Linked DNA regions of Homo sapiens. The protein of the gene in region 1 interacts with the protein of each later gene in a pairwise test. Each region holds a gene or a part of one and is shown on either strand. Other genes may lie near its edges. The genes, in order: THRA, TACC1, RGN and SYAP1.

The links.
Region 2: the proteins of THRA (region 1) and TACC1 interact in binary tests that used the Homo sapiens proteins (3 or more experiments, as listed by UniProt).
Region 3: the proteins of THRA (region 1) and RGN interact in a two-hybrid assay, tested with the Homo sapiens proteins (one study listed by BioGRID).
Region 4: the proteins of THRA (region 1) and SYAP1 interact in binary tests that used the Homo sapiens proteins (3 or more experiments, as listed by UniProt).

What each region holds. Positions count from the first base shown.
Region 1 is NC_000017.11:40,079,880-40,087,283, reverse strand, and holds part of THRA (thyroid hormone receptor alpha), read right to left. Parts: intron 3,450-7,404; coding exon 3,302-3,449; intron 2,675-3,301; coding exon 2,469-2,674; intron 578-2,468; coding exon 431-577; intron 1-430.
Region 2 is NC_000008.11:38,817,907-38,825,310, reverse strand, and holds part of TACC1 (transforming acidic coiled-coil-containing protein 1), read right to left. Parts: intron 5,790-7,404; coding exon 4,676-5,789; intron 1,322-4,675; coding exon of another isoform or gene 1,286-1,321; intron 4-1,285; coding exon 1-3. UniProt on the Homo sapiens protein: Involved in transcription regulation induced by nuclear receptors, including in T3 thyroid hormone and all-trans retinoic acid pathways. Might promote the nuclear localization of the receptors.
Region 3 is NC_000023.11:47,081,377-47,088,780, reverse strand, and holds part of RGN (regucalcin), read right to left. Parts: intron 4,364-7,404; coding exon 4,181-4,363; intron 1-4,180. UniProt on the Homo sapiens protein: Gluconolactonase with low activity towards other sugar lactones, including gulonolactone and galactonolactone. Can also hydrolyze diisopropyl phosphorofluoridate and phenylacetate (in vitro). Calcium-binding protein.
Region 4 is NC_000023.11:16,714,555-16,722,898, forward strand, and holds the start of SYAP1 (synapse-associated protein 1), read left to right. Parts: upstream 1-5,057; 5' UTR 5,058-5,170; coding exon 5,171-5,345; intron 5,346-8,344.

The DNA.
Region 1 (7,404 bases):
TATCTGTGTGGCTGTGTGCTAGGTGTGTGTGTGTGTGTGCCTGTGTGCTGGGTGTGTGTCTGTGTGTGTGTGTGTGTCTGTGTGCTGGGTGTATATGTCTGTGTGTGTTTCTATGTATCTGTGTGTGTGTTTGTGTACTAGGTGTGTGTGTGTCTGTGTGCTGGGTGTATGTGTGTGTGTATGTGTGTCTGTGTACGTATCTGTATGCTAGGTGTGTGTGTGTGTCCGTGTATGTGTCTGCATGTGTGCCTGTGTGCTGGGTGTATGTGTATGCATGTGTGTGTGTGTGTCTGTGTATGTTATCTGTGTATGTTGACCTACAGGAATTGCTCCTTGTCCAGAGAACCTCAGATGAGCCTGTACTGGGTGACCGGGGGAGCAGGTTTCCCTCCAGCACAGCATCACATCTCTCCCCACTTCTGCCACTCACCTCGGAGAACATGGGCAGTTTTTTGGCAAAGTCCACCACACGGGTGATGGCCGGGGTGATGATCTTGGTAAACTCGCTGAAGGCTTCCAGGTCCACCTTGTCTCCGTCCGGCATGGAGACAATGGGTGACTGGCCAATGTCATCGGGCTAGAGAGAAAGACGGGGGTCAGCTGGGGCCGCAGACCCCTTTCAGCCTCTCACTGAGGCTCCCTGCCCACCAGGGGGAGCTCCAAGGCAGCTTGGGGAAGAGGGGCCGCCCGTGCCTGAGTCCCAGGCCCAAAGCTTTTCCTTCATCTTGAGCAGAGAATAGACCAGAACCAGAGCTCCAAGTCAGCTAATAATAACAACGGTAGTAACAGTAGTAGCAGCTATAATGACTGAATACTTAATATATGATCAGGCATCAGGCTACATGTTTTACATGTCTTATTTCATCCTGACCATAATCCTAAAAGGAATAATTATAATAATCACCATTTCACAGATGTGGAAACTGAGGCATGGGGCAGCTAAATAATAAGGTTAAAGTCATATGACCAGCAAGTGGTAGGACCAGGGTTTGAACTTGGGCAGTCTGACTCGTGACTGTTACACATCTGCTTGGAATCAGAGCCCGTGCCCTTAACAGTGTGCACTGTGCCACCCCCCGGCATGCTCCACCATGAACCAGGTGCTGGTTTTCTGCCTTCCTTCACCACGTATAGCCAACTGTCCATCTCCTCCCAAACTGATCATATTTTTTGAGAGAGGGTCTTGCTCTGTTGCCTGGGCTGGAGTGCAGCGGTGTAATCATGGCTTACTGCAGCCTCGACCTCCCAGGCTTAGGGGATCCTCCTGCCTCAGCCTCCCGAGTAGCTGGGACCACAGGCACACACCCCCATGCCCAGCTAATTTTAAAATTATTCGTAGAGAGGCCGGGAGCAGTAGCTCACACCTGTAATCCCAGCACTTTGGGAGGCCAAGGCAGGCAGATCACCTGAGGTTGCGAGTTCAGACAAGCCTGACCAACATGGAGAAACACCGTCTCTACTAAAAATACAAAATTAGCCGGGCGTGGTGGCGCACGCCTGTAATCCCAGCTATTTGGGAAGCTGAGGCAGGAGAATCGCTTGAAGCCGGGAGGTAGAGGTTGCGGTGAGCCAAGACTGTGCCACTGCACTCCAGCCTGGACAACAAGAGCGAAACTCCAACTCAAAAAAAAAAAAAAATTATTCATAGAGGGTGGGCATGGTGGCTCACATCTTGTAATCACAGCACTTTGGGAGGCCGAGGCGGGTGGATCACTTGAGGTCAGGAGTTCGAGACCAGCCTGGTCAACATGGTGAAACCCTGTCTCTACTAAAAACACAAAAATTAGCCAGGCATGGTGGCCAGTGCCTGTAATCCCAACTACTCGGGAGACGGAGGCGGGAGAATCGCTTGAACCCAGGAGGCGGAGGTTGCGGTGAGCCGAGATCGTGCCACTGCACTCTAGCCTGGGTGAGAGTGAGACTCCGTATCAAAAAAAAAAAAAATTATTCATAGAGGTGGGATCTCTGTATGTTACCCAGACTGGTCTCAAACTCCTGGGCTCAAGCGATCCTCCCACCTTGGTCTCACAAATTGCTGGGATTACAGGCATGAGCCACTGCACCTGGTCCCAAACTCATCATTTACTTAGCAACTAGCTTGACCAGGGCCTAACATAATGCCTGGCACCCAGCAGGTGCTCAAAAATACTGTGACATAACTGTATCCTTACCCTCTCCTCCCAGTCACTAAGGGCAGGAAAAAGAAGAAAGGTCGCTCCCGCTCCCTGGAAATTCGATGAGGAAGGCAAGGCCCTGTCCTCATTGAGCTCCCAGTTGGATGGAGTAGACAGTCCAGACAGCAAGGACACAAACACAAGTGTATAAAATCTGGACAGCAAAAGTGTGAAGAGTATGTATTTTGGGTTGGATTACACTAAGAAGACTTCCTGGAGGAGGCAAGACTCCGAGCTCACTCTCTTCTCCCTGCCACCTGGCTACTGCTCTCCCCATGCCCCCTTTCTCCTTACCAGGAATTTCCGCCTCTGTTTCCAATGGCTGCCCTGGGCATTGGTGCTGCGATGGGCCTCTGTGGCAATGTGGATCAGATCCCACTCTTCAGGAGTGGGCTCTGGTCGCTGCTGCAGTGATCGGATCATCTCCTCCTTCCGCCGCCGCTCCCGGTTCTGCTCAATCAGCTTACGCTTGGCCACCCGCTTCGAGTCATCTAGAACCACTGTGAACAGAGAGGCACAAGGTCTAACGCATGGCACCCTCCATCCCCTTTCCATAATGCTCCCGGAAACTACTCTTCCTAGAGTACAGGTTGGAGAAACCGAGGGCCATGGAGGCTAAATGACTTCCCAAATCACCTAGCAGTTGGGCAGCACAACCCGGATCATGATTAATCCCCGGGACCATGTCAACAACAGTTTGGGCTGATCCAGATGAATATCATGTTCTGGTCTAACGGATTATGGTGACGGTGGTTACTCGAATATCCTGCCACCCAATCCCCAGCCAATGGAAGATGCCCTGTCTCATCTAGAAGTGGGGTGCCTTCGCTGGGAGTCAAGAACAGTGTGCTAGAGTGGGTGCCCAGGAGCTCTTTCTACCAAACGACTCCCTCTCTAAGGCCCTCGAGTGTTGTAAGGCAGGTAGGCATTGGGGCCCACACAGGGATCCTGTTTCCTTTTGCGCAGGAAGGAGGACAGCAAGGACCAAGACACTGAACATTCTGACCTAGACTGGATTGCCACTCTGCCCTGTGGGCTCTGAGGGTACCCTGGAAGGAAGCTGCCCTCCCAGAACTCATCCCCACCCCAGGCCACCTGGCTCTATTCCCTCCACCTGGGCCCCTTACAGTCCATGGCCATGCCCACGGCGATGCACTTCTTGAAGCGGCACAGCTGGCACTGATTGCGGGTGATCTTGTCAATGACACAGCAGCTGTCATATTTGCAGGAATAGGTGGGATGGAGGTTCTTCTGGATTGTGCGGCGAAAGAAGCCCTGGGGTGGGGGAGATGGAGCAGGCTGTGATCATGACATGGCTTCCCCTTCCTGAACCAACCATGCAGTTTACTAGGGGTCAGGGGTGGAGAGCAAGGAAGGCAAGATCAGTGAGGGGACCTGGCATCCTCCTGACACCATGAGCCCAAGATTACTAGGCTCAAGGACCTGAGAAATATATGCCCTCAGCCCCCAGGCTGCTGAGGGGTTGGGGGTGTCTGGGTAGTGTTTGTGGCAGAGGCAGGAATGATGTCTAGAGCAGGCAGCTTTGAACCTGGGATAATGTGAGGCCTTAAGGAATAGCAGCTTTGGAAATCCAAGTCGCCGGGCGCGGTGGCGCACGCATGTAATCCCAACACTTTGGGAGGCCGAGGTGGGCAGATCAACTGAGGTCGGGAGTTCGAGACCAGCCTGACCAACATGAAGAAACCCTGTCTCTACTAAAAATAGAAAATTAGCCGGGCATGAGGTTGGGTGCAGTGGCTCATGCCTATAATCCCAGAACTTTGGGAGGCCAAGGCGGATGAATCATGAGGTCAGGAGTTCAAGATCACCCTGGCCAACATGGTGAAACCCTGTCTCTACTAAAAGTATAAAAATTGGGCGTAGGCCGGGCGCGGTGGCTTATGCCTGTAATCCCAGCACTTTGGGAGGCTGAGGCAGGCGGATCACAAGGTCAGGAGATCGAGACCATCCTGGCTAACACGGTGAAACCCTGTCTCTACTAAAAATACAAAAAAAATAGCCGGGCATGGTGGTGGGCGCTGTAGTCCCAGCTACTCGGGAGGCTGAGGCAGGAGAATGGCGTGAACCCAGGAGGTGGAGCTTGCCACGAGCCAAGATCGCGCCACTGCACTCCAGGCTGGGTGACAGAGCAAGACTCCGTATAAAAAAAAAAAAAATTACCCGGGCGTGGTGGTGGGCGCCTGTAATCCCAGCTACTCAGGAGGCTGAGGCAGAGAATTGCTTGAACCCAGGACACAGAGGTTGCAGTGAGCCAAGATCGCGCCACTGCATTCCAGCCTGGGTGACAGAATGAGACTCCATCTCAAAAAAAAAAAAAAAAAAAAAAAAAAGCATGCGATTCTATAGTGTAGCAGTTATCACATCTGCTTTACATGCAGAAGGTCCTAGGTTTGAGCCGCGGTGGAACCACGGCGGGGTCCACCCCTTGGCCGGGCGCGGTGGCTCATGCCTGTAATCCCAGCACTTTGGGAGGCCCAGGCGGGCAGACTGCCTGAAGTCAGGAGTTCAAGACCAGCCTGGCCAACATGGTGAAACCCCATCTCTACTAAAAATATAAAAATTAGCTGGGCCTGCCCCTGTAATCCCAGCTACTCGGGAGGCTGAGGCAGGAGAATCGCTTGAACCCAGGAGGTGGAGCTCGCATTGCACTCCAGCCTGGGTGACAAGAGTGAGACTTCATCTCAAAAAAGAAAAAAAAAAGAAAAAATTAGCCGGGAATGGTGGCACATGCCTGTAATCCCAGCTACTTGGGAGGCTGAGGCAGAAGAATTGCTTGAACCCAGGAAGCAGAGGTTGCGGTGAGCCAAGATTGTGCCATTGCACTCTAGTCTGGGCAACAAGAGCAAAACTCTGTCTCAAAAAAAAAAAAAAAAAAAAAAAAGGAAATCCAAGTAAAACCTCATTTTCCATTTTGCTAAATGACTTTAAAAACAACACTGACCCAAAAACCATTCTCATATATGTTGCCTGTTGTCCATGCAGGTGGAATTCATAAAACAGGGGAACCAAAAAAGTCAAGGAAAGGGACTGAGTATGAACTCTAGTAGGGGAAGAGAAAAATTTCAATTCTCTACATTGGGATTCACCTTTATTTTATTTTTTTAATTTAATTTTTTTTTTCTTTTTGAGATGAAGTTTCACTCTGTCACCCAGGCTGGAGTGCAGTGGTGTGATCTCAGCTTACTGCAACCTCCACCTCCCAGGTACAAGCAATTCTCCTGCCTCAGCCTCCCGAGTAGCTGGGACTACAGGTGCCCACCATTACGCCCGGCTAATTTTTGTATTTTTATAGAGATGGGGTTTCACCATGTTGGCCAGGCTGGTCTCGAACTCCTGACCTCAGGTGATCTGCCCACCTCGGCCTCCCAAAGTGCTGGGATTACAGGCGTGAGCCACCGCACCCAGCCTCGCCTTTATTTTAAAGGAAACACCTCAAAACTCAAGATGATTGCAATAATATGAAGAATTAGTATTTTTTCATGTTTACAATGTGTCAGTCACTTAGTAAACATAAGCCTTGCTGGCCAGGTGCAATGACTCACACCTGTAATCCCAGCACTCTGGGAGGCTGAGGCAGGCAGATCACTTGAGGCCAGGAGTTCAAGATCAAGACCAGCCTGTCCAACATAGCAAAACCCCATCTCTACTAAAAATACACAAATTGGCCAGGGGTTGTGGCGTGCACCTATAATCCCAGCTACTCTGGAGGCTGAGGTGGGAGGATTGCTTAGGATTGCTTGAGACCAGGAGGTCAAGGCTGCAGTGAGCTATGATCGCACCACTGCACTCCAACCTGGGTGACAGAGACCCCATTACAAACAAAAACAAAAACCCAAAAGATAAGCCTTGTCTTTCATGGAACATCACAGTGAACCCTCCAGACAACCCTATGAGGTAGGAACTGTTACTGCCTCCACTTTGCAGACAAGGAAACTGAAGCTTGGTGAGATGAAGCAATTTGCCCAAAGTCATGTGGCCGGTGGGCAGCAGAGTCAGAACTGGGCCTCAGGTATGGGACACCAACGTCTGAGCTCTCAGATTCCAGGGGCATTAAAATCACCAAAGGCAGCCGAGTGCGGTGGCTCACGCCTGTAATCCCAGCTCTTTGGGAGGCTGAGGTGGGTGGATCACGAGGTCAGGAGTTCAAGACCAACGTGGCCAACATCGTGAAACCTTGTCTCTACTAAAAATACAAAAAATTAGCCAGGTGAGGTGGCAGGCACCTGTAATCCCAGCTACTCAGGAGGCTGAGGCAGGACAAGTGCTTGAACCTGGGAGGCAGAGGTTGCAGTGAGCCAAGATCGCGCCACTGCACTCCAGCCTGGGTGACAGAGTGAGACTCCGTCTTGAAAAAAAAAAAAAAAAAAAAAAGTCACCAAAGGCACCTACCAAAGATACAGATTCCTGGGCCTCACTCCAGAACTACAAAATAAAACTATCCAAGGGTGGGGCCAAGGCATCTCTGTCTTTTCAGGGTGCTTCCCTGGGACTCAGATGTCCGTGAGAGTAAAAGATCCTTTCTCTATGCTACACTGTTTGTATTGCTTCCAGAAGGATTGTATTGCTTCTGCTAGGGAACTCTAAATCCCTCATGGTCTTGGTTTGGTTGACATCAAGAAAGAGAGAGAAACTTCAAGCCTTAAACTTTTTTTCCGTTTTTTTTTTTTGTTTGTTTTTTGTTTTTAAGACAGGGTCTTGTTCTGTCGCCCAGGCTGGAGTGCAATGGCTTAATCACAGCTCACAGCAGCTTCGACCTCCCAGCCTCAAGTGATCGTCCTACCTCAGCTGCCTGAGTAGCTGGGACCACAGGTGTGTGTGCACCACCATGCCTGGCTACTTTAAAAATTTTTTTGTATGGACAGGGTCTCACTATGTTGCCCAGGCTGTTCTTAAACTCCTGGGCTCAAGCAATCCTCCCACCTTGGCCTCCTAAAGTGTTTGGATTACAGGCGTGAGCTACTATACCTGGCCTTTAACATATAAATCATTCTGTTTCTTTTTTTTTTTATTTTGAGACAGAGTATCACTCTGTCGCTCTGTCACCCAGGCTGGAGTACACTGACTTAATCTCCACTCTCACTGTAACCTCCATCTCCCAAGTTCAAGAGATTCTCCTGCCTCAGCCTCCCAAGTAGGTGGGATTACAGGCGTACATCACTACACCTGGCCAATTTTGGTATTTTTAGTAGAGACAGGCTTTTACCATGTT
Region 2 (7,404 bases), on another chromosome or scaffold:
CTCCTGGAAAGAGAAGAAACACAAACAAGCCAGTTTGCAATCACACTGACAATTGTCAAGGTATGAAATGGAGCAGACAGCAGTGTGTGCGGATAGAAGCCAAAGCATACAGCACCACACAAATCATACATCGCCGCAGGAGAGAGGCAGGGACACCTTTTATGCCTCTGAGTTTTCTCCAGAGAGACGGGGTAAGCAAAGACCTACAAGCGGGGCTCATTCTCTGAAAAGACCCCCTCAGCTTGCTTCTATGAGTTGTCAAACAGTAGCACTCTGATGTCTATGGTTTTTAATTACACGCCACCAAAAGCTTTGCAGACAGTAGAGCCTTAGCAGCTGGAGACATTCAGTTCCTCTGAGCCTCACTCGCTTGGCTTTGACATTCATTAGAAAAATCATCACGCTGGACCAAATTCTTTAAAAATTCTTTATTGCACTAAAAGCCATAGACGTCTCATAAAACAGTTCCAGTTAGACTTGTGTGCTCACAGAGAAGAACTGTCATCAATAAAAAGTATAAAAGTAAAAATATGTGAGTAAACTGTTACCATTCCTATTAAGTAGTAAGATGGAAGATGAATGTCACACGCTGCACAAAGCCTGAAACTGGGGAAGCTTGAACCATCTGTTATTTGTAGATTAGCACACAACTTGTGATCACAGGACTAATTCAGATTCTGTTCTAATAAACTTAGAATTTCCAGGAAAAACACCACTGTGACCAAAAAAAGAGAAAAAATTATTTGCAACTTTTTTTCTTTTGTGAGAAAAAATACAAAGACAAGCACATAAGTTACCGGAATGTGCATAATCACTAGTTCATGATCTTCTTTCCCTAATCTTCTTACTGAGTGCTACCCTCTGCCACCAAACTCAAGTTGAGCTGACTCAGTAAAATTTATTAACTGTTCCAAGCCAGTAGCTTTATGCTACCAAAAAAGCCAATGATTTCCAATATTAAATAGCAGAACAGTCCCTCAAACCACTGCTGTGATGATCTTGGGGCCAAGCCAGCTTTTGGTATTGTCAAAGCGCCACGTGACACCTGCCAAGCCAGGGAGTGCAAGCTCTAGCACCTAAGGTGTAAAGGCCAAGCCCCACTCCCTTAGGTATGGACAACTGCAAGGCTAAGCTGACTCATGAAGTGACTGATGAAATGCAAAAAAATCATCAGAAGATCAAACTCAGAATTAGAAGCAAACATGCTATGGAGAGATGGCTGGGGGAGGGGAGAGAGGAAACTGCCAACGGTCCCAGGGACTAAAGAAACAGCAGGAGTACTTACAACAGAAAACAGAGAAATTTCACTTGTTCAGTAGTCCTGATGCACCAACAAAATTAGAGACAGGAAAGAGACAGACAGATGGAGAAAAAAATCATGTAAAGACTGGAATATTCAACTCTAGTCTGGCAGATGTAAAAGCTGCACAATTCTTTCTATGAGGTGAGATACAAATTAAAAATGTCGTATTCATGAATGTTATCACCAGTGAGTGAATGATGAACAGACCTCAACTACAAAGGAGACTGGTAGAAACACTCAGAAATGCCACAAATTCAAATTTACAGATGAAAAATAAACTTCCAAGAGGTCTAGCACTCCTTTCTTCTAAAAAGAACAAGACGACAAGATTTTTGATTGCATAAGGCCTTAAAAAAAGCCCTATTAAGTGTATTAGATCAAGAAGTTCATTCAACAAAAACAGAATAGGGGAAAAAGGCTACTGGGTGAGGGTGGCAGGACTCGAGAGACGGTGCTTCTTGCTGCCGAATATAAAGTGTAGAATAAATTACCCTTTCTTTGGCCCAGATTTCATCTTATTTAATGCATTGGTTGCATGCAACTCAAAGACTCACAAATGACTCCTTATCAACTTCAGTATGCAGAAGCATCCCACATTTAGGGGAGGAAGTACCTAGGCAGTGACGTGCCCAGTACATACCCTAAGTGCTGTCTAGAGAGGAGTAACCAACCTTAAAAGCCACAAAAGAGGGCACCCAATCAATAATATTTTCCAACAACCATTTAACTGCTTATATATAATCAAAGAACAGATCGAGAGCTACTAATGACATTTCACTCCCCTTAGCCATTCCGGGGCTGCTGAGGAACTGGTTCCTATATCTCTCTACTTTCTTGGTACTGAAGTTGATCCTTCTGCTCTTTAAACCTCTGGGCGTCTTCCTTTCTGCTGTAAGTCACCATGATATCTGGAGTTTTTCTTTAAGTCATAGCAATGCTGAGAAGCATTTCCCCAACTGATCTACAGTGACAAGTACAAACACAGTGCTTCTCATACTCCCATATTTCATCCTGCATCTCATTGGTCCTTCTTTATATCTACATTTTACTCAAACTTTTTAGTAAAATGTGGCCCTTTTTAGGGCCACAAAAGGATATACAGTCAGGTGCCATGTAATGACATTTCAGTCATGCATACGATGGTGGTCCCGTAGGGTTATAATGGAACTGAAAAACTATTGTCTAGTGATGTCCTGACGATCCTGAGTAGGCCTAGGTAATGGGTAGGCCTAGGTAATGTGTGTGTCTGTGTCTTAGTTTTTAACAAAAATTTTAAAAAGTAAACAAATAAATAATTTTACACAAAGAAAACTTATGGAATAGGTATATAAAGAAAATATTTTTGTATAGCTGTACCATGTGTTTGTGTTTTAAGCTAAGTTTTATTACAAGAGTCAAAACTTCTTAAAAAATTTAAAAGTTGATAAAGTAAAAGTTACAGTAAGCTAAACTTAATCTATTATTGAAGGAAAAAAACTTAAATAAATTTAGCATAGCTGAAGTGTACCGTGTTTATAGAAGCTACAGTAGTGTACAGTAATGTCCAAGGCCTTCTCATTCACTCACCACTCACTGACTCACTCAGAGCAACTTCCAGTTCTGCAAGCTCCATTCATGGTAAGGGCCCTATACAGGTGTATTATTTTTTATCTTTTATACTATATTTTTACTGTACCTTTTCTATGCTTAGATATGTTTAGATACACAAATACTTACCATTGTGTTACACTGCCTATAGTAGTTTTTTTTTTTTTTTTTTTTTAAAGACAGGGTCTTGCTCTGCCAGCCAGGCTGGAGTACAATGGCATAATCATGGCTCACAGCAACCTCAACCTCCTGGGCTCAAGCAATCCTCCTGCCTCAACCTCCTGAGTAGCTGGGTCTACAGGCATGCACCACCACTCCCAGCTAATTAAAAAAAATTTTTTTAAGAGACAGGGAATCGGTGTGTGTGGGGGGGTGTCTCACTATGTTGCCCAGGCTGGTCTTGAACTCCTGGCCTCAAGGGATCCTCCCACCTTGGCCTCCCAAAGTGTTGGGATTACAGGTGTAAGCCACCACACCTAGCACCTATTCAGTACAATAATGTGCTGTACAGGGTTGTAGCCTAGGAGTAACAGGCTGTACCATATAGCCTAGGTGTGTAGTAGGTTTCACCACCTAGGTTTGAGTAAGTTCACTTGACGATGTTCACACAACAAAATCACCTAAGGATGCATTTCCCTGTGGCTTACCCTGTGGCTAAGTGATGTATGATTGTATTATCATCTACTCAAGTTTTGTGATAAAGTAATCCTGTAGCAAAGTTAAACTGAAACTTGATATGGAATAGGACCTTAGGTAATTACACTGAAAACACCAAGGACCTTGCAAAAGTCAGATAATTTCCCAGGAGAGATGGGGGATTGACTAAACCAACTAATTTACTCAGTTTTAACTGATCATTTAAAATATTCTTGATTCTTATTGAAATTTTACCTCCTGGCTGATGAGCCAGAAATTACACATGGAGACAAGAATTCTCATCAATTTTAGTGGTAGGTTTGTTTCCCACAAAAATCACAGCTTTCTGTTTATGTAAAAAGTCTTCTTTCTACAAGACCCTTTTGGATCATTTCCCACGTTATTGACGCTACAGAGGTAAGTTACAGGACTGGAATTTCTGTTTTATCCATAGAGTATGAAGACGGTGGCCAGCAGTGACATTTGAATTGTCTATAACACGACTCCTAACAGTCCAGCCAGGATTTCTGAAAACCATCAAATCTCTACCTGTCTATCTCATGCCATTCTTTTTTTTTTTTTGAGATGGAGTCTTGCTGTCACCCAGGCTGGAGAGCAGCGGCGTGATCTCGGCTCACTGCAACCTCTGCCTCCTGGGTTCAAGCAATTCTCATGTCTCAGCCTCCCGGGTGGCTGGGACTACAGGTGTGCACCACCACGCCCAGCTAATTTTTGCATTTTTAGTAGAGACAGGTTTCACCATGTTGGTCAGACTGGTCTCAAACTCTGGACCTCAAGTGATCCACCTGCCTCGGCCTCCCAAAGTGCTGGGATTACAGGTGTGAGCCACCGTGACTGGTCTATTTTTTTTAAACATAAAAAAGTCTCTAGGGTCAAGGGAAAAGAGCTTAGCTGATTAAGCTAAGGATTCAGAAAAAAGACAACAATCTGAAAAGGAAACCTCTGGTATTTCTGATTCCACACAACAGTTAAGCCAAACAGTGAAGACTGCAGGATAACATTATAAGCTTTGTATGAACCTCGGTGCACCTCAAAGGTAAATTCAGTTCACCAAAGCCAAAAGTAGCTGGCTGCCAAACTCAACAGACAAGACACAGAGCACGACACCCAGCGCCCACTGTCACTCACGTTATTAAACGCGACTTTGCCTTCTTGGGTGATTCTAAGATTTCATTAACGTGATTACCAGTGGGAGAACAAAAGTCACTGCTTGTTAAGGTCGTAGTTGGTTTAAAGGGATCCATGGATTCGTCAAAGTTATCTGGGTCAAAGTGGTAGGAGCCCTCAGAAGAGAGGGGTGGGGAGTTCTGCAGAACAGAGTGGCTCCCAAAGGGGTTGAAGCTGGGGCTTTCCCACTGACTAGGATCTGGCTTGGAAGATGTTTGGGAGAGAGGCCCGTCTCGTGCCACTGGGTCTGTAGGCTGTTCTAAACCTGCTGACTTACTGATGCCATCTTTTTGTATCTTGGGAGTCAGTGTGCTACCCAGTTTCCTGCCAAGCTTCCTTGGAAGGGCTTTCCTGGCCTCTATGTTTCCTGTATCTTCTGTGAAATCAAACTCAAGCTTGAGAGGTGAGCTCCTCGACTCCTCCCCCAGCTCAACCCCTGAGTCGTTGGTGTCACTACTGAGAGTGCCGGGAGTTTCTTTAAGGTCAGGGGGAGACTTCTGGAACCTGGCATCTCCTAGCAAAGGACTTGTGTTCTCATCCAACTCTTCAGGACTGAAGTGATAGGATGCCTTGGGGAGAGGTGTGCCCTCCACAGCAGCGTTGGTGTCTGAGAACTCTCCTCCAATTGCTTTCTTCCTCAGGGGGACAGGCTTGGGCTTTCTCAGCTTGCTTCTTCTGCTGGGCACAAGCTCTGGACAGGAGTTGCCAGCTTTTAGATCAGCTTCTGCGGAGGCCTCGAGGGTGACCCCCATGCTGCCTTCTGTCATCGCCTCGTCCTGGAGGGCGTCTGGCGGGCTGGAAGGCAGAGCCTTGCCTGAGACTGCAGTTACACAGCCATGAGCTGCTTTTGTTCCGAGGACTGCCGAGATATCCGTGGAATCCTTCGTTTCTATTGAAAATGGCCTCACGATGGAAATTTTGCTAAAATCATGTTCAGGTTCTTCTCTGAAATTCTTGACTGAGTGAGAGTCAATGGCCTGCTGTGGCACTTCATTTTCTGAAGGTTTAGAACAAGTCTTAGATGAACATTTTTCAACCACTTCTGCTACAAGCTGTTCATCAGCTTCTTGTGATTCTAAAATGAAACACAAAAACCATCTATTAAAGAATTATCTGTCACTGGTAAGTATCCTCTCTTACCTGAATTCATATAAACAAATAGCAAGTTCTTCCCTCTTTGCTTTTATTAAGCATCTCTAAAGTTCAGGAAGGATGGCAGCACAGCCTGAAAGAGAAGAGCTGGCACAACACCCTAAAATGAATTTTCCTATCCCAAGTTGTGTATGTGCATTATCCAAGTGATACGAATAGTAAGTACACCAAAAGAGCTATTTAGAAAAAGGATAAATAGAGCAAGAGTCTGCTGCAATGTATTATTATGTGATGTTAACATTCTGTAGGGTAAAACTGGTCTGGAGGAGTATTTAGAAACCAACAGCTATGGTGCAGGGAGGCAGATTGGTGCTGAGACAGTTCCTAAGCACAGCCTGACAGCTTCAGGGTCAGAACTTTATGCAGTGAACAGATCTGAATCTTTGAATGTTAAAAACATAAGTATCTTGGGAGGCCAAGACGGGCACATCATGAGGTCAAGAGATTGAGACCATCCTGGCCAACATGGTGAAACCCCATCTCTACTAAAAATACAAAAATTAGCTAGACATGGTGGCACACGCCTGTAGTCCCAGTCACTCAGGAGGCTGAGGCAGGAGAATCACTTGAACCCGGGAGATGGAGGCTGCAGTGAGCCGAGATTGCGCCACTGCATTCCAGCCTAGACTCTGTCTCAAAGAAAAAAAAAAGAAGAAAAAAAAAAAGCCATGTATCCACAGAACAGAATTTAAAAAGACTGTTTCAAAAATAAATTTAAAAAATCTACTGTGACCAGCTCAGAATCATCTCTCTGTAGACCTAAAAACTAAAAGAACCAAATAAGAAAGCTAATTTGAAAAACCAGATATGGAAATGGCTTTAAAACAAATAGCCCTTATTTTACTAAGACACAAATTGTAAAACAATAAAGTTATTTTTTCTTTAGAACCTCTGTCTCTAAGTCGGACCAGGAATTCTCTAAATCACTTGTGAAAAATAAAAATCCTTTTTAATTGTGGTCTTACTAGGATAAGTGCTGCAAATATTAGGAAGGTGTGAATGAGGTAATTTCGTTAAAGCAAAAAGTGATTTCCTAACGTAGATATCTGAAACAAGAGTAGCACAGAAAAACTCAGTGAATTGGTTATAATATCTCATGATTTTAAAGGAAATTAAAAGATGACCCTCTAATCCTACTTCCTAATCCTAATCCAGGATCAGAGTCAAGTACCACTGGAATATCATAGCTATAGTTTTTATTTTTGTTTTTCTTGACACAGTGTCTCTGTTACCCAGGCTGGAGTGCAGTGGCCTGATCATGGCTCACTGCAGCCTTGACTTCCCCAGGCTCAAGTGATCCTCCCACCTCAGCCTCCCAAGTAACCGGGACCACAGTCATGAGCCACTAAGCTTGGCTAATTTTTATTTTAATTTATTTTTTATGTAGAGACAGGACAGCCAAGTTGCCCAGGCTGGTCTCACTGGGCTCAAGCAATCTGCCTGCCTTGGTCTCCCAAAGCACTGGGGTCACAGGTATAAGCCACTGCGTCCAGCCTGTTTTTTTTTTTTTTTTTTTTTTTTTTTTAGGGGTCTCTCAC
Region 3 (7,404 bases), on another chromosome or scaffold:
TTTATTTTTTTTGTAGAGACGGGGTTTCACTGTGTTGCCCAGGCTGGTCTCAGACTCCCGAGCTCAAGTGATCTACTTGCCTCGGCCTCCCAAAGTGCTGGGATTATAGGCTTGAGCCACCGCGCCCGGCCAAAGGATTTCAACAAGACTCAGGGCCTCATAATATTCAAAATGTCTAGAACACAACCCCAGATTACTTGGCAACACAAAGAAACATGGAAATCTCAACTCACATAGGAGAAGAGAATCAACAGATGCCGAAAATGAGATGGCACAGATGCCAGAGACAATGTAGATGGGAAGCCTGAATAGCAAGCAAGACAGGGTCGATCCTCCCTCCCTGGGGAGAAGGATGTTCCCTCGGCAGTTTCCTGCTCTAGGGCAGTTGGGTTTATTTCATGACTCTCCCTGCACATTATCTGCCTCACAGAAAAAGAGGCCTGGAACATGCATGTGAATCTCCTGCTGCTTGGAAAGCCTCTTCCTTGGTGGATAGAATAATCTAGAGCCCTGGCTTCATTATCTAGTAACAAGCATAGACAGGTCAGATCTTGGGTGTGGTGATATATTCAGGGTGCGATCACCTTGAGAATCCATCTAGACTATAAGATAACCCCACCTTTTTCTGGGCCTGGGGCACCTCCGAGCACCTGCCAAGAGCTATGACCTCTCTTGAGAAAGAGTCTCAGGTGCTTCTGGCAGATGCATAGCACTAGTATATACCTAACAGGTATATACTAGTGTACTAGTGTTATGCATCTGCCAGAATACTACAGTATTATATTATAATTATATATAATATAATATTATATATTAATATAATATATATAGTTGTATTATATATTATATAATATATAATTATATTTATATATAATATGATTATATTATATATGCTTATATAATTATAATACTATATTATAATATATAATTTAAAATTATATATGATAATACATAAAGTAAAACTATATATTATTATAAGTATAATATTATAGTATTGGTATTAGTACTATAGAATACTATAGTAATACCTAATAGTTACACCTACAATGACACCTGCAATTTTAAGAGGTCTCCTGATGGCCCAGAGACTCCATGCTTAGAATGGAGGCCTTGGAGGCCATCTTTATTTTTGTCTCACAGAGTGCCTCAGAACTGTAAACTTTGTAAGAAAAATATGGAGCTCTTCATGCATTTGCATGTCATCCTTGTGCAGAGGCCATGCTAATCTTCTCTCTATCGTTCCAACTTTAGTAGATGTGCTGCTGAAGCGAGCACAGAACTGTCAACTTCTACTTAAAAGAAGGAGAGAAAATCAATTTCACCAGGAGGTGAAATATCCAATCACATATCTTTATCTTGCAGAAATTACTGCAGAAGGGCTTCCAACAGATTCTCATCTTTAATCTTTCAACCTGTCCCGGACCATATCTGTGGTTGTATAAAGTCCAGGAAGATGGGAAGCAGTCTACAGTCAGCTGCTCTGACCTCTCCTGCCTTCCATATTGAAGTTGCACAGGGCCAGGACAGCAGGGCCAACAATGTGAGGCGGCAGTGTGGGAAGGTGGGAATAGTAGAGATGGAGAATCAACTTCGGCTAACTCAGAAGGTTATTATGATGAGAAATATATGTGAAGTGCAGTATCTAATTTAAAACTGTAGATAAAATTCTTTTAAACCTGCATGTAAGTCATTCTGCAACCATCATAGTAAACTTTGGTTCAAGAAAGAATCATCAATGAATGTAAAACTTAAGGAAGAAATTTTGATGAGGACCAGGATATTTGTGTGGACTTAGAGTATCTCCCCATGTTGTAGCCAGCCTCCAAGATAGCCCCTAATGATTCCCACCTTTCAGCATTCTCACCCTTGGATAGTTCCCTCTGTCATTGTCTGTGTGACCAATAGCATATGGCATAAGTGATGGTATGTCACTTCCGATTGGTTAAAGACTGTAGCTTGCATCTTGGATCTTGGGTGCATGCGTTCTCTCTCTCTTTCTCTCTCTCTCTCTCTCTCTCTCTCTCTCTCTCTCTCTCTCTCTCTCTCCTGTTATCACTGGTTCTAGGGGCAGCCATGTCCTGAGCAGCCCTGTGGAGAGACCCACCAGCTAAGGAACTGAAGCCTCCTGCCAACCCCTATGTGAATGAGCTTGGAAGTGGATCTTTCAGACCTCTGCAGAGAATCCAGCCTTTTCCGAGGCTGCAGCCCCTGTGGAAAGCTTGACTACAGTCTTATGAGATAGCCTGAACTGGATCCATCCAGCTAAGCTGCACCCAGATTCTTGACCTTCAGAAACCATCTGAGATAATAAATATTTCTTATTTTAAGCCTCTAAGTTTCAGGGTAATTTGTTATCCAGCAATAGATAACTAACAACCCCCACAAATTGCTTATAAATTGCATTAAAAATAGTTATTCAGTAGAGAAATCTGACAGGGCCTTAACCTGGTGATCAAAATCACTAACGAGGGGACACACGGACATCGTGTACCTCCAGATGGGTTACCCTGAGAACAGAACATTATCTATGCGGTATTCCAGTCAGGAATGTATAACATCAACTTAATCACAAACAAACACTAGACAAATACTAAATAAGGAATGCCCTATTAAAAAAGGGGGAGTTGGGTAGGCCTGGCTGTATTCTTCAAAAATGGCAATGTTATAAAAAACAAACAAAAAAAGCTATGAAAATGTTCCAGTTTTAAAAAAGATCAAAGAGATATGAAAAGGAAATGCAATCCATGAGCCTAGACTGCATCCTGTGCTGGAGGGAAAAATGTGAGAAAGAACACTTTTTGTACAATTGACAAAACTGGGATTTAGATAGTATATCAGATAAAATGACTGTGTCAATGCTAAACTTCTCTAAGTTGATCACTGTAACTGTGGTCATGTAAGAATATGTCGTCTTTCTTGGGAAATTCACACTGCAGCATTTTAGGGGTAAAGGCACATAGGATATACATGCAACCTACTCTCACATGATTCTGGAGATAGGCCAGGTGCAGTGGCTCACACCTGTAATCCCAGCACTTGGGAGGAAGAGGTGTGAGGATCACTTGAGCTCAGGAGTTTGAGACCAGCCTGGGCAACATAGTGAGATCTCATCTCTATTTTTTTTTTAAATAAAGGACTCTGGAGATAAAGATGTTTAGATATATACAGACAGCAAATGATAAAGCAAATGGAACAAAATGTTAGCAATAGGTGAACCCGGGTAAAAGGTATACAAGTGTTGTTTGTACTATTCTTTTTTTTTTTGAGATGGAGTCTCGCTCTATTGCCCAGGCTGGAGTGCAGTGGTGCGACCACAGCTTACTGCAAGCTCCACCTCCCAGGTGCATGCCATTCTCCTGCCTCAGCCTCCCGAGTAGCTGGGACTACAGGCGCCCACCACGCCCGGCTAATTTTTTGTATTTTTAGTAGAGACGGGGTTTCACCGTGTTAGCCAGGATGGTCTCAAATCTCCTGACCTCGTGATCTGCCCGCCTCGGCCTTCCCAAAGTGCTGGGATTACAGGCGTGAGCCACCACGCCTGGCCTGTACTATTCTTATTTTTCTCTGTAAATTTGAAAATATTTCTGATTTAAACATCAACAACAAAACCCCTGTATTTAAAACTCATTTAAACCACCAAAATACCATACAGATTTTAGTCTCTGCTAGAGATGGAAATGCAAATGAAGATTTTATCATAGAATTTTTTTTTTGTCCTACAACTTACTCAGGCAATAATAAAAGAAGAACCCAAGATTCATTATAAATAACACTTTTGAGGTAGTGAGAACTAACTAACTTACTTACTTTCTTTCTTTCTTTTTTCGAGACCGGGTCTCACTCTGTCACCCAGGTTAGAGTGCAGTGGCACGATCTTGGCTCACTGCAGCCTCAAACTCCTGGGCTCAGATGATCCTTCCAACTCAGCCTCCTGAGTAGCTGGGAACACAGATGCATGCCACCAGGCCCAGCTAATTTTTTGTATTTTTGGTAGAGACAGGGTTTCACTATGTTGCCCAGGCAGTTATCGAACTCCTGGGCTCATGCGACCTACTCGCCTTGGCTCCCAAAGTGCTGGATTACAGGCGGGAGCCACCACCCTGGTCAGTAGTGAGAACTTTGTATGTCAAAGTATTTCCTCCAAGGCTCAGTAATAAGTAGGTGTTAAGAGAAATCTTACCAGCAAAGTACCTCCCGGCGGGATCCACCTTCCCATCATTGAAGCGATTGTTTTTCTTGTCGTTATCCACCGTGGCCAAGACAACTGCTGATTGTTCTTTCCAGTTCAAAGCACAGAACTTTGTTCCAATGGTGGCAACATAGCCTCCCGACTGGCGAAGAGCCACGGAGCTGACTGGGGCATCTGTAGAGGTAAAGCAACAGTTAAAAAACAGTACCAGTTTAGTGGCTGAGGCCACTGAGATCACTGTGCTACCTGGCATCTCTTAGAGCGGGAGCCCAGCTCTCGTGACAATGGGAGCGCTCTCTTCCTTCTGTTGAGTAGGGAAGGCTATGTAACCTAGTACATTTGTTGAGTATGAATTTTGTGTGCTGATCTGGGCAGCAATAGATAGAAATGTGAAAAAAACCCAACTCCTCTGGAAGCTCCCAGTCTTGTGGGAAAAGCAGAGAAGTGAAAGCCCAGTGGCCATGATATGGGGCAGGTGCCACATCCAGTTCAGAGGAGGAGTTTCTAATCTAGGGGCACCAGGACAGTCATCACAGAGCGAGTGATGCCCCATTTTGCCAGAAAATGCTCCAGAAAATTCAGAGACACAAACCGAGTTTATTTACAGCAACTAGGTTTTGTGACATCTCTCTCCCTCTCCAATCCAGGATTTGCATTTTTTTTTTTGTTTGTTTTGTTTGAGACAGAGTTTTGCTCTTGTTTCCCAGGCTGGAGTGCAATGGTGCAATCTCAACTCACTGCAACCTCTGCCTCCTGGGTTCAAGCAATTCTCCTGCCTCAGCCTCCTGAGTAGCTGGGATTACAGGCATGCACCACGCCTAGCTAATTTTTATTTGTATTTTTAGTAGAGATGGGGTTTCACCATGTTGGCCAGGCTGATTTCGAACTCCTGACCTCAGGTGATCCACCCGCCTTGGCCTCACAAAGTGTTGGGATATTAGGCGTGAGCCACCACGCCAGGCCCAGGATTCGTCTTTTCTAAGGGGCCCTATTTTATATGTATTTAATTGCAAATTGTTTCTCAGATCCTTTTTTGGAAGTAAGCATGGTAAAAAATAATAAACAGATAGGAATGTAGATGCAGAGATAGTACAATCACATCTCTTCATTATATTACTACATTTTATGTTTTTAAATTTTAGGTTTTCTTCATTTAATATTTTTCCATGTATAAGAAAACTTTTTTTTTTTTTGAGATGGAGTCTTGCTCTGTTGCCCAGGCTGGAGTGCAGTGTCGTGATCTTGACTCACTGCAACCTCCGCCTCCCAGGTTCAAAGGATTCTCCTGCCTCAGCCTCCCTAGTAGCTGGGACTACAGGCTGTGCTACCATGCCTGGCTAATTTTTGTATTTTTAGTAGAGACACGGTTTCACCATGATGGTCAGGCTGGTCTTGAACTCCTGGCCTCAAGTGATCCACCCACCTCAGCCTCCCAAAAGTGTTGAGATTACAGGCATGAGCTACTGCACCCGGCCAAGAAAGCTTTTTTTTTAAATTTATTTTATTTTTTTAAGTGGAGAGATTGATTGCTGTGGTGAATGGTCACAGGAAATAAATTTATCAGAATAGATTTTGAAAGCATTTCCTAAGCACCCCTTCAGTGTAAGATAATGGGAGCTTCAGGAGCCACCCTTAGCTCAAAGCCCTGCTCACACTTTGATTGGAGCCATCAAGGGTCCCAAGGAATGTGTAGGACACACTCTCATTGGGGATCCCAACCTGCAGCCTGAGACTTCTCTTGGTAGCTCTCTAAGCTACTGCTGACACCACAGCTTTTTCCATGGGTTGGGGGCGGGTGGTGGTGGGGGCGGGCTTTTCAGATCACAGGTTGGCATGTGTGTCTGCTGCAAAAGAGACTAGAAAAGGCAAGGGGACCCCATCCCCATTCTACCCTCAGAGGTCACAGTCACTTTACCACAGTCATACTTCTGGGTGAATTAAAAATTTGTTCCCTTTCATTTAAAAATAAAGAAGTTTAAGGCTGGGCGTGGTGGCCCACACCTGTAATCTCAGCACTTTGGGAGGCCAAGGCAGGAGGATTGCTTGAGCCCAAGAGTTCAAGACCAGCCTGGGCAATATAGGGAGACCCTGTCTCTACAAAAAATAAATAAAAATTAGCTAGGTGTGGTGGCACATGCCTGTGGTTCCAGCTACTCAGGAAGCTAAGGTGGGAGGATCGCTTGAGCCTGGGAGATTGAGGCTGTAGTAAGCCATGTTTGCATTATTGCACTCCAGCCTGGGTGGCAGAGCCAGACCTTGTCTCAAAAAAAAAAAAAAAAAAAAAAAAAGTTGAGGTCCCAGTTCTGGGTTGAGAAAGAATGTCCCAAGATTATAGGAATTCCTGATATTTTTTCCCATGGGCTCAGTGAAAACAAGAAACTTCTTTCTCTATCAGTAATTACATTAAGCCTATTCCCTTGGGCCATAGAAAGTGATAAATCCCTTCTTTAGAATTCGCAGGGCCATAAACGCATCACACTCAAATGCACATGAAATTCCATCATGAATTCTATTTTGTGCAGTAAACAAAGACGGTCCTGGTTGATGCTTTATACATCCAAAAGCTAGTTTTCACTTTCAAGGAAGAGAGGCACCTGTTTTTGTTTTGTTTTGTTTTGTTTGAAAATTAAGGTCTTGGCCTGACCCAAGGCAGATAACTGGGTCTTTAACTTTCCATGGTTATCTGAAGGTATTAAGGAAAGACAGGAACTAGAGTGCCCCAGCATCCAAACAAAACTGGGAATGGGCTGGGCGTGGTAGCTCACGCTTGTAATCCCAACACTTTGGGAGGTCGAAGTGGGTGGATCTCTTGAGCCCAGGAGTTTGAGACTAGCCTGGGCAACATGGTGAAACACCATCTCTACAAAAAATACAAACTAGCTGGACATAGTGGCACGCACCTGTAGTCACAGCTACTAGGGAGGCTGAGGCAGGAGGATCCCTTGAGCCCCAGGAGATCAAGGCTGCAGTGAGCCGTGATCACACCATGGCACTCCAGCCAGGGCAACACGGTGAGACCCTGTCTCAACAAAAACAAAACAAAAAATAAACAAAAACACCCCCCCCCCCAAAAAAAAACTAGGAATGTTGCCCCTCATTCAAAGAGGAAGAGGAAAGTATTGACCATCCATAATTAAACCCTGGGTCAAAGTGGGAGGATATGGAGTGGGGACAGACAGCGTGACAAGTGTAGTCAGTGTGCTTTAACAAGAAGG
Region 4 (8,344 bases), on another chromosome or scaffold:
GCACTTTGAGAGGCTGAGGCAGGCAGATAGTTTGAGTCCAGGAGTTGGTGACTTACCTGGACAACATGGCAAAATCCTGTCTCTACAAAAAATACAAAAATTATCACGTGTGCTGGCATGCATCCCAGGGGAGGCTGAAGCAGGAAGGTCGCCTGAGCCCAGGAGGTCAAGGCTGCAATGAGCTATGACCGTGCCACTGCACTCCAGCCTGGACGACAGACTGAGACCTTGTCTCAAAAAAAAAATCAATTAATTAATTTAAAAAAATAAACACGACCAGGCATGGTGGCTCACCCCTGTAATCCCAGCACTTTGGGAGGCCGAGGTGGGTGGATCACGAGATCAGGAGATCGAGACCATCCTGGTTAACACGGTGAAACCCCGTCTCTGCTAAAAATACAAAAAATTAGCCGGCCGCGGTGGCGGGTGCCTGTAGTCCCAGCTACTCAGGAGGCTGAAGCAGGAGAATCTCTTGAACCCGGGAGGTGGAGGTTGCAGTGAGCCCAGATCGCGCCATTGCACTCCAGCCTGGGCGACAAGAGCGAAACTCCATCTCAAAAAATAAAATAAAATAAACACAATGGAGTTTCTCCCCACCAAGGATGAAAGAACAGTGTTGTGGAGGAAGCAGTAAGGAACTTGGAACAATGATGTCAATTTCTGGGAAAATAAGCAGACGCTTCACTCAGCAGGGTAGCCTTGGGGGAGATCCAGGTCTCCATGGGTGTTGGGGGGTCCAGGGGAGGGACAAGGAACCACCTTGTCAAAAGGCTAGAGGCATAAACAAGTCTTCCAGAGGGCTCAGGGGAAAGAATGTTTGTGAAATGGGTTGGTATGGGTGCTAATACTTAATACCTGCCGCATATGTAAGGTTTCCTTCCACAGTTCCGTCTTTCATTATCTTTTTAGAACCAGGACAGTTGTTATGATCCCCTTTTTAGAATGAGGGACCTGAGGTTCAGAGATGTGAAATGTCTTGACCAAGGGTACGTTAGTTAATATGAGTGGCAAAGCCAGGACATCAATGCACAGCCAGACTCCACCACAGGATGTGAGGCCTGATCCAATTGTCCTATTCTATTCATCCATGAGGCTAATGGATAAAAGATAATCTGTATATACAAAGGGCTCATTATAATAACTATTGTATTATTAATCTCAAATGGGAAAAATAATGAGCTGGAAAACAAATTTGATAACAGGGTGTGGATTGACTGAATTGTGTGGGATAAGGATGTATCCTCATTCAACAAGTGTCAGTTCATGGCCCACCACCAGCATAACATCTTGCTGAATCCGCACAAGATGATTTTTTTTTTTTTTTTTTGAGGTGGGGATTCATTCTTGTCGCCCAGGCTGGAGTGCAATGGCATGATCCCAGCTCACTGCAACCTCCACCTCCCGGGTTCAAGTGATTCTCCTGCCTCAGCCTCCTGAGTAGCTGGGATTACAGGCGCCCACCACCACGCCCGACTAATTTTTGTATTTTTAGTAGAGACAGGGTTTTACCATGTTGGCCAGGCTGGTCTCGAACTCCTGACCTCAGGTGATCCACCTGCCTCGGCCTCTCAAAGTTCTGGGATTACAGGCATGAGCCACCGTGCCTGGCCAGATGATTTTTTTAAAATGAAAATGAAGCCCATCATTAAGTTGATTGCTTATGTTCTTGTTTTGTAATCTTTTTTTTTTTTCTTTTTTTCAGTCGGGGTCTCGCTCTATCACCCAGGCTGGAGTGCAGTGGCACGATCACAGCTCACTGCAGCCTCCAGCTCCCAGGCTCAAGCAATCCCCCTGCCTCAGCCTCCTGAGTAGCTGAGACGACAGGTGCAAGCCACTACACCCAGCTCATTTTTTATTTTTTGTATAGACAGGGTCTCGTTATGTTGCCCAGGCTGGTCTCAAACTTCTAGACTCAAGCAATCCTCCCACCTCGGCCTCACAAAGTGCTGGGATTACAGGCATGAGCCACTGTGCCCAGCCTAATCTCTTATTTTTAAGAATTCTACCTTTCAGAAGAGTTGTAAAACTGTCTATCCCTTGGTGACCACAGTGTTCACCACGATTTTGAGTGTACCTTAAGATAAAGCAGAGTAAGGCTGAAAGGGCTGGGCCCTATCTCTGCTGTGGGAAGGACCAGCACTATACTTCTTTTGCAAGTGAGGGAACTTGAGGGGCAAAAGGATGAGTAAAACGTCAAGTTTAGGCCGGGTGCGGTGGCTCACTCCTGTAATCCCAGCACTTTGGGAGGCCAAGGTGGGTGGATCACCTGAGATCAGGAGTTCGAGACCAGCCTGGCCAACATGGTGAAACCCCGTCTCTACTAAAAATACAAAATTAGCCAGGTGTGGTGGCAGGTGCCTGTAATTCCAGCTATTTGGGAGGCTGAGGCAGGAGAATTGCTTGAACCCAGGAGGCAGAGGATACAGTGAGTCGAGATTGTGCCACTGCACTTCAGCCTGGGCAAGACAGAGTGAGACTCCGTCTAAAAAAAAAAAAAAAGTCAAGTTTATTCACCTACTAGATGGTGGAATTAGAAGCCCATCCTAGGCTTCTCACTCAAATTCCAGGCTCTGTTCAATCATACTTGAAGCAAATATCCTATTCCCGAAAGTCTCAACCACTTTCAGGTTCTCATTGACTTAATAAAGCCTAGAAAGGCATTGATCCTAAGACATCTCCTGACTTCAAAGCTGAATCAATACTTGGACTCTAAAAACAGGCTGGAATGTCATCAATGCCACTGAACTGTACACTAAAAAAAATTTATTTTTACTTCAATTTAAAATATTAATAGTGTAATACACCAAAAATATATACCATTGAATTGTACACTTTAAACAGGTGAATTGTTTAAATCTCAGCTGTTTGGGGGAAAGAAAAAAACAGGTTGGGCTTGATAACCTAAAATCCTGGACCTGAATAAAATATAAATATAAGTCAGGCTGGAAAACTGGACAGCAGGGAAATCAGAGTTGTAATCAATTCCTCATGTATTCCCTCAGGTCACCGGAACTGTCCTCCTCTTCTCAAAATAGTTGGGGAGCAAGGAATCATGGATGTCCTTCCACAATTAATGACTGAAGACTGTGCTTGGGAAATGTGTCCATGAACTCCCTGCTCTGAAGGGGTAGTTATGCACATCACTAGTTTTTTGTTAGTTTTACATGTTATTGTGGGAAAAGTTAAAAATATAAAAAAGACAAATGTTTAACTACCCAGCTTCAACCCATGGCCAGGCTTGTTTCATCTATATCCCCCCCCATTCCCCCCACCCCCATCCTGTATTAATTTGAAGCAAATTCCAGACGTGGCATCATTTCTTTTTTTCTTTTTCTTTTTTTTTTTTTTGAGACGGAGTTTTGCTCTTGTCATCCAGGCTGGAGGGCAATGGCAGGATCTCAGCTCACTGCAACCTCCGCCTCCTGAGTTCAAGTGATTCTCCTGCCTCGGCCTCTCGAGTAGCTGGGATTACAGGCGCCCGCCAGCACACCCAGCTAATTTTTTGTATTTTTAGTACAAACGGGGTTTCACCATGTTGGTCAGGCTAGTCTCAAACTCCTAACCTCAGGTGATCCACCCATCTCGGTCTCCCAAAGCGCTGGGATTACAGGCGTGAGCCACTGCGCCTGGCCCAGATATGGTATCATTTCTTTGGTAAAATCTCAATATGTGCGGTGGATAAACAGATGGATAAACAAAACGTGGTGTATACATACAAGGGAATACTATTCACTCTTAAAAAGAAATTGACACAGCCTTGAGGACATTATACTAAGTGAAAGAAGCCAGTTACAGACAAATACTGAATGATTCCACTTATATTAAGGTATCTAGTCAGATCCATAGAGACAAGAAGTAGAATGGGGGGAGGAGGGGGATGACAAGGACAGGAATGGGGAGTTGTTTCATAGGTAGTTTCAGTTTTGCAAGATGAAGTTCTATTTTTCTTTTTTCTTTTTTTTTTTTTTTTGAGAATGGACTCTGCAACCTCTGCCTCCCGAGTTCACGCCATTCTCCTGCCTCAGCCTCCCTAGTAGCTGGGACTACAGGCGCCCGCCACCACGCCCGGCTAATTTTTTTCTATTTTCAGTAGAGACGGGGTTTCACCGTGTTAGCCAGGATGGTCTCGAACTCCTGACCTTGTGATCCTCCCGCCTCGGCCTTCCAAAGTGCTGGGATTACAGGCGTGAGCCACCGCACTCGGACTATTTTTCATTCTTTTAATTGCAAGATGAAGAGTTCTGAAGATTGATTGCTCAACAATGTAAATGTACTTAACAGTACTGAATTGTACACTTAGAAACGGTTAAGATGGTAAATCATATTAAGATGGTAAATTTTGTGTATTTTACCACAATTAAAATTTTGTAATTTCACAATTCCTTAATTTTATCAACTACCCAGTGTCCAAATTTCCAGTTCTTATAATAAGTATCATACTATTTTTTTCAATGTGTTTGCTGAATTAGGATCCTAATAAAATGCACAAGGGGCCATGTGTTACATCTCTTAAGTCTTTTTTAATCTATAGGTTCCCCACCACACTCCTCTCTTCCTTGCAATTTATTTGAAGAAACAAGGTTGTCTGTCCTGTGGCTTCTCATAGTCTAGATTCTGCTGACAGCATCCCATTGTGTTGTTTAACACCTTATTCTGTCCTCTTATTCCCTGTTGGGCTTGGCGGCTTTGGGTTAGTTTTGAATTGGGCTCAGGAGGAGGCTAAAGACATCCAATTCTGCGGGAACGCAGCCCTGCGGGACCTGAAAAGGCGAGACTAAGTCACCAGCCAAGCTGCCTAGAGGCAATCTTAAAATGGGACTGGCTAGGACTGTGACAAAGACACCGTCCACATGCCTACTAGGTCAGTCACCTACAAAGCTGGCGAATGAGGAAAAGAGGGAAGGCAGGGCTACGCTGGGAAAGCTCTTTGTCCCCTATCCACGCGCACAAAACAGTTGTCACAACTGACGTCACCAGGGGCGGAGCCTTTGGACGGAAGTGACGCTTGCGCGGCCGCGGCGGAGTCGTCATAGAGGCGGGGCTGCGGCGGCTGCGGTGTTCCTCCGACTTCCGGACATCTCCCTGGGAGTCGCGCAGAGTGGAGTCAAAGGCAACCAGTGCTCGCTGCGGTCTCTGGGGATCGGGACCGCGGCGGCGGCCCGCGAGCGGGATGTTCCGGGGCTTGAGCAGTTGGTTGGGCTTGCAGCAGCCGGTGGCAGGCGGTGGGCAGCCCAATGGAGATGCTCCACCCGAGCAGCCGTCCGAGACGGTGGCTGAGTCTGCGGAGGAGGAGCTGCAGCAAGCGGGAGACCAGGAGCTCCTCCACCAGGCCAAAGACTTCGGCAGTGAGTCTACCCTGGCTCTGGGACCGGGAAGGGGGGGGCGCATTCCTCCTCTGGGACGGCCCTGGGGCGCGGGCCCGACTGGCTGGGGGATGAGGGGGCCGAGGTGGGAGGCAGGGGAGGAAGATGTGTCTGTCGGTCAGTCCTCTCCGGGTCGGGAGAGATTGGTGAGGATCTGGACGAGGCCAGAGCTTCATCTAGCAGTCAGGTCCTGTCCCTGAAGTTCCTGGTGACAAGTCTACAAAGTTTGCAGACATTGGAATCAGGTATGCAGTCAAGCAGTGTGACCCGACGTCTTCAGGTTTGACAAGGAATCTTTTTTGTTCAACTCGAAAACCTTCATTTACACCCCCCAGATCGGGGATAGTTGGCGAGCTTGAATTGGTTGAAAAAATAATTTTTTGCCCCTAGGTCAGAACGTGTTGTCTGAAGTAAACTGACAGTTACTGAATGTCAATGTCTGCCCCGGTCAAATGCTTTTTAGGTACAGAGACCTTTTTCCTTAAGGAGGGAGAGAAAATGCCAACTGTCTGCTATACGCAAGTTGCAGTACTAGATGTTTTATGAAAGATATCCCATTTCATCTGTTAAACACCCCCAGTGAGTTGGGGGAACAAGCCCAGAGTTATTGGGCCAAAGTTATACTGATAGTGAGTGGTAGAAGTGGAATTTGAGCTTCGATCTTTCTCATTTTAAAGCCCGTGCTCTTTCCAAGTTTACAGTCTACAGGGGTTGGGGGACAGGTGATAATAGACGTGGAGTAAACACATGCTGTAGTAATTCTCATTTCTGGAGAGACCATGGTGGGCTTCAGTGATCACAGAAAGCATCTTTGAGGCCGGATATGGTGGCTCAGGCCTGTAATCCCAGCACTTTGAGAGGCTGAGGTGGGCGGATCATGAGGTCAGCAGTTCGAGACCAGCCTGGCCAACACGATGTAACCCCGTCTCTACTAAAAATACAAAAAATAGCCGGGCGTGGTGGCGGGCACCTGTAATCCCAGCTACTCAGGAGGCTGAGGCAGGAGAATCGCTTGAACTGGGGAGGTGGAAGTTGCAGTGAGCTGAGATCGCACCACTGCACTCCAGCCTGGGTGACAGAGCAAGACTCCATCTCAAAAAAACAAAACAAAACAAAACAAAAAAGCATCTTTGAGGAGGTGAGCCCTAAAGCAGCCCAGCACTACAAGTGAGAGAACTGCAACAAAGGTAGATACTAAGTTCAGCAACATTTGAAGAATCTACTAAAAGATGGGGGTGGGGGGATGGGGGTGGAGACAGGGATGTGGGAGGAGAGCAGCCTGAGAGTAGATAAACACATATTTGAGTAAGAAAGGGCCGAACAGTTTTTCTGGAGACAGGGTCTCACTCTGTCGCCCAGGCTGGAGTGCAGTGGCACGATGTTGGCTCACTGCAACCTCCACCTCCAGGGTTCAAGTGATCTTCCTACCTTATCCTCTCCAGTAGCTTGGATTACAGGCATGCCCTACCACGCCCAGCTAATTTTTGTATTTTTAGTAGAGATGGGGTTTCGCGATGTTGGGCAGGCTGGGCCCTAACGTTTAAAAGTTTACTGTGGGATGAAAGGACAGGGAAAACAGACATAATCTCAAACCATGACAGTGTATAATCTCAGCCCAAGGCCCCCAGATAGAATAGTCTTGCTCTGTCGCCCAGGCTGGAGTGCAATGGCACGATCTCGGCTCATTGCAACCTCCACCTCCTGGGTTCAAGCAATTCTCCTGCCTCAGCCTCCTGAGTAGCTGGGACTACAGGCACACGCTGCCACACCTGGCTAATTTTTTTTTTTTTTGTATTTTTAATGGAGACAGTGTTTCACCATGTTGGTCAGGCTGGTCTCAAACTCCTGATCTCAAGTGATTCACCCACCTTGGCCTCAAAGTGGTGGGATTACAGGCGTGAGCCACCGTGCCTGGCCCCTCTGAATATTTTCTAATAACTGCATTTTTCATATGGATGTGTACTTTGGAGCTAATGCTGCCATCTTTCTGCTCACCAGATTCTCTTTTGATATTTACGGAAGCTGAGGTTAGATGGAAGTACCCACAAACACACACACATTGTGAATTTAAAGCTTCAGAATAAATGAGAATTCTTTCTTTTCTGAAATTTATGTGATTTTAGAAAGTCGTAAAGGTTCTAGTTCATATACAAACTGTGAGAGACAAGAGAGATGATCAGATATTTTTTATTTCTACATATTGATCCTAAGAAGTATATTGTCTTTAAGAAGACCCATTTATGTTTTGAAAACTGGAATTAAACATCTGTGAGCCTGACTCCCAGAGTAGATTCATTTCTTAAGTCTTTTGAAATCTACATAAAATATCAGCCGGGTGCGGTGGCTCACGCCTATAATCCCAGCAGCTTTGGGAGGCCAAGGCAGGCAGATCACGAGGTCAGGAGATCGAGACCAGCCTGACCAACGTGGTGAAACCCTGTCCCTACTAAAAATACAAAAATTAGCTGGGCGTGGTGGTGCGCGCCTATAATCCCAGCTACTCAAGAGGCTGAGGCGGGAGAATCGCTTGAACCCGGGAGGCGGAGGTTGCAGTGAGCCGAGATCGCGCCACTGCACTCCAGTGTAGGTGACAAAGTGAGACTGCATCTCACAAAAAAAAAAAAAAAAATCTCCTGGGAGCCCCATTTGTTCTGCATATATTTGTTGAGTGCCTACCTTCAAGACTGGACACTAAATACTTCCTGGTTCCTGGTGACCTATTTATACATTCAGGCAACTCACCAGTTAGTGGTGGACACCCAGGCCTGCATTCCACTCCCTCACTCAAAACCAAACCTCCTGGTCTCCTGATTCTTGGCCCTCCCTCCTGATAAATTTACAACCTCCGATTGTCACTGTCTCCAAAGGAAGGAACAATTTATAGGAGAACTCACTTAAGAGCTCCTCCCTACCTCCCTCAAGGCCCCATGCCGTTAAGTTGGTTAGTTGGTTTTTGTTAAAGTCAACCAAATTAAAGCTTT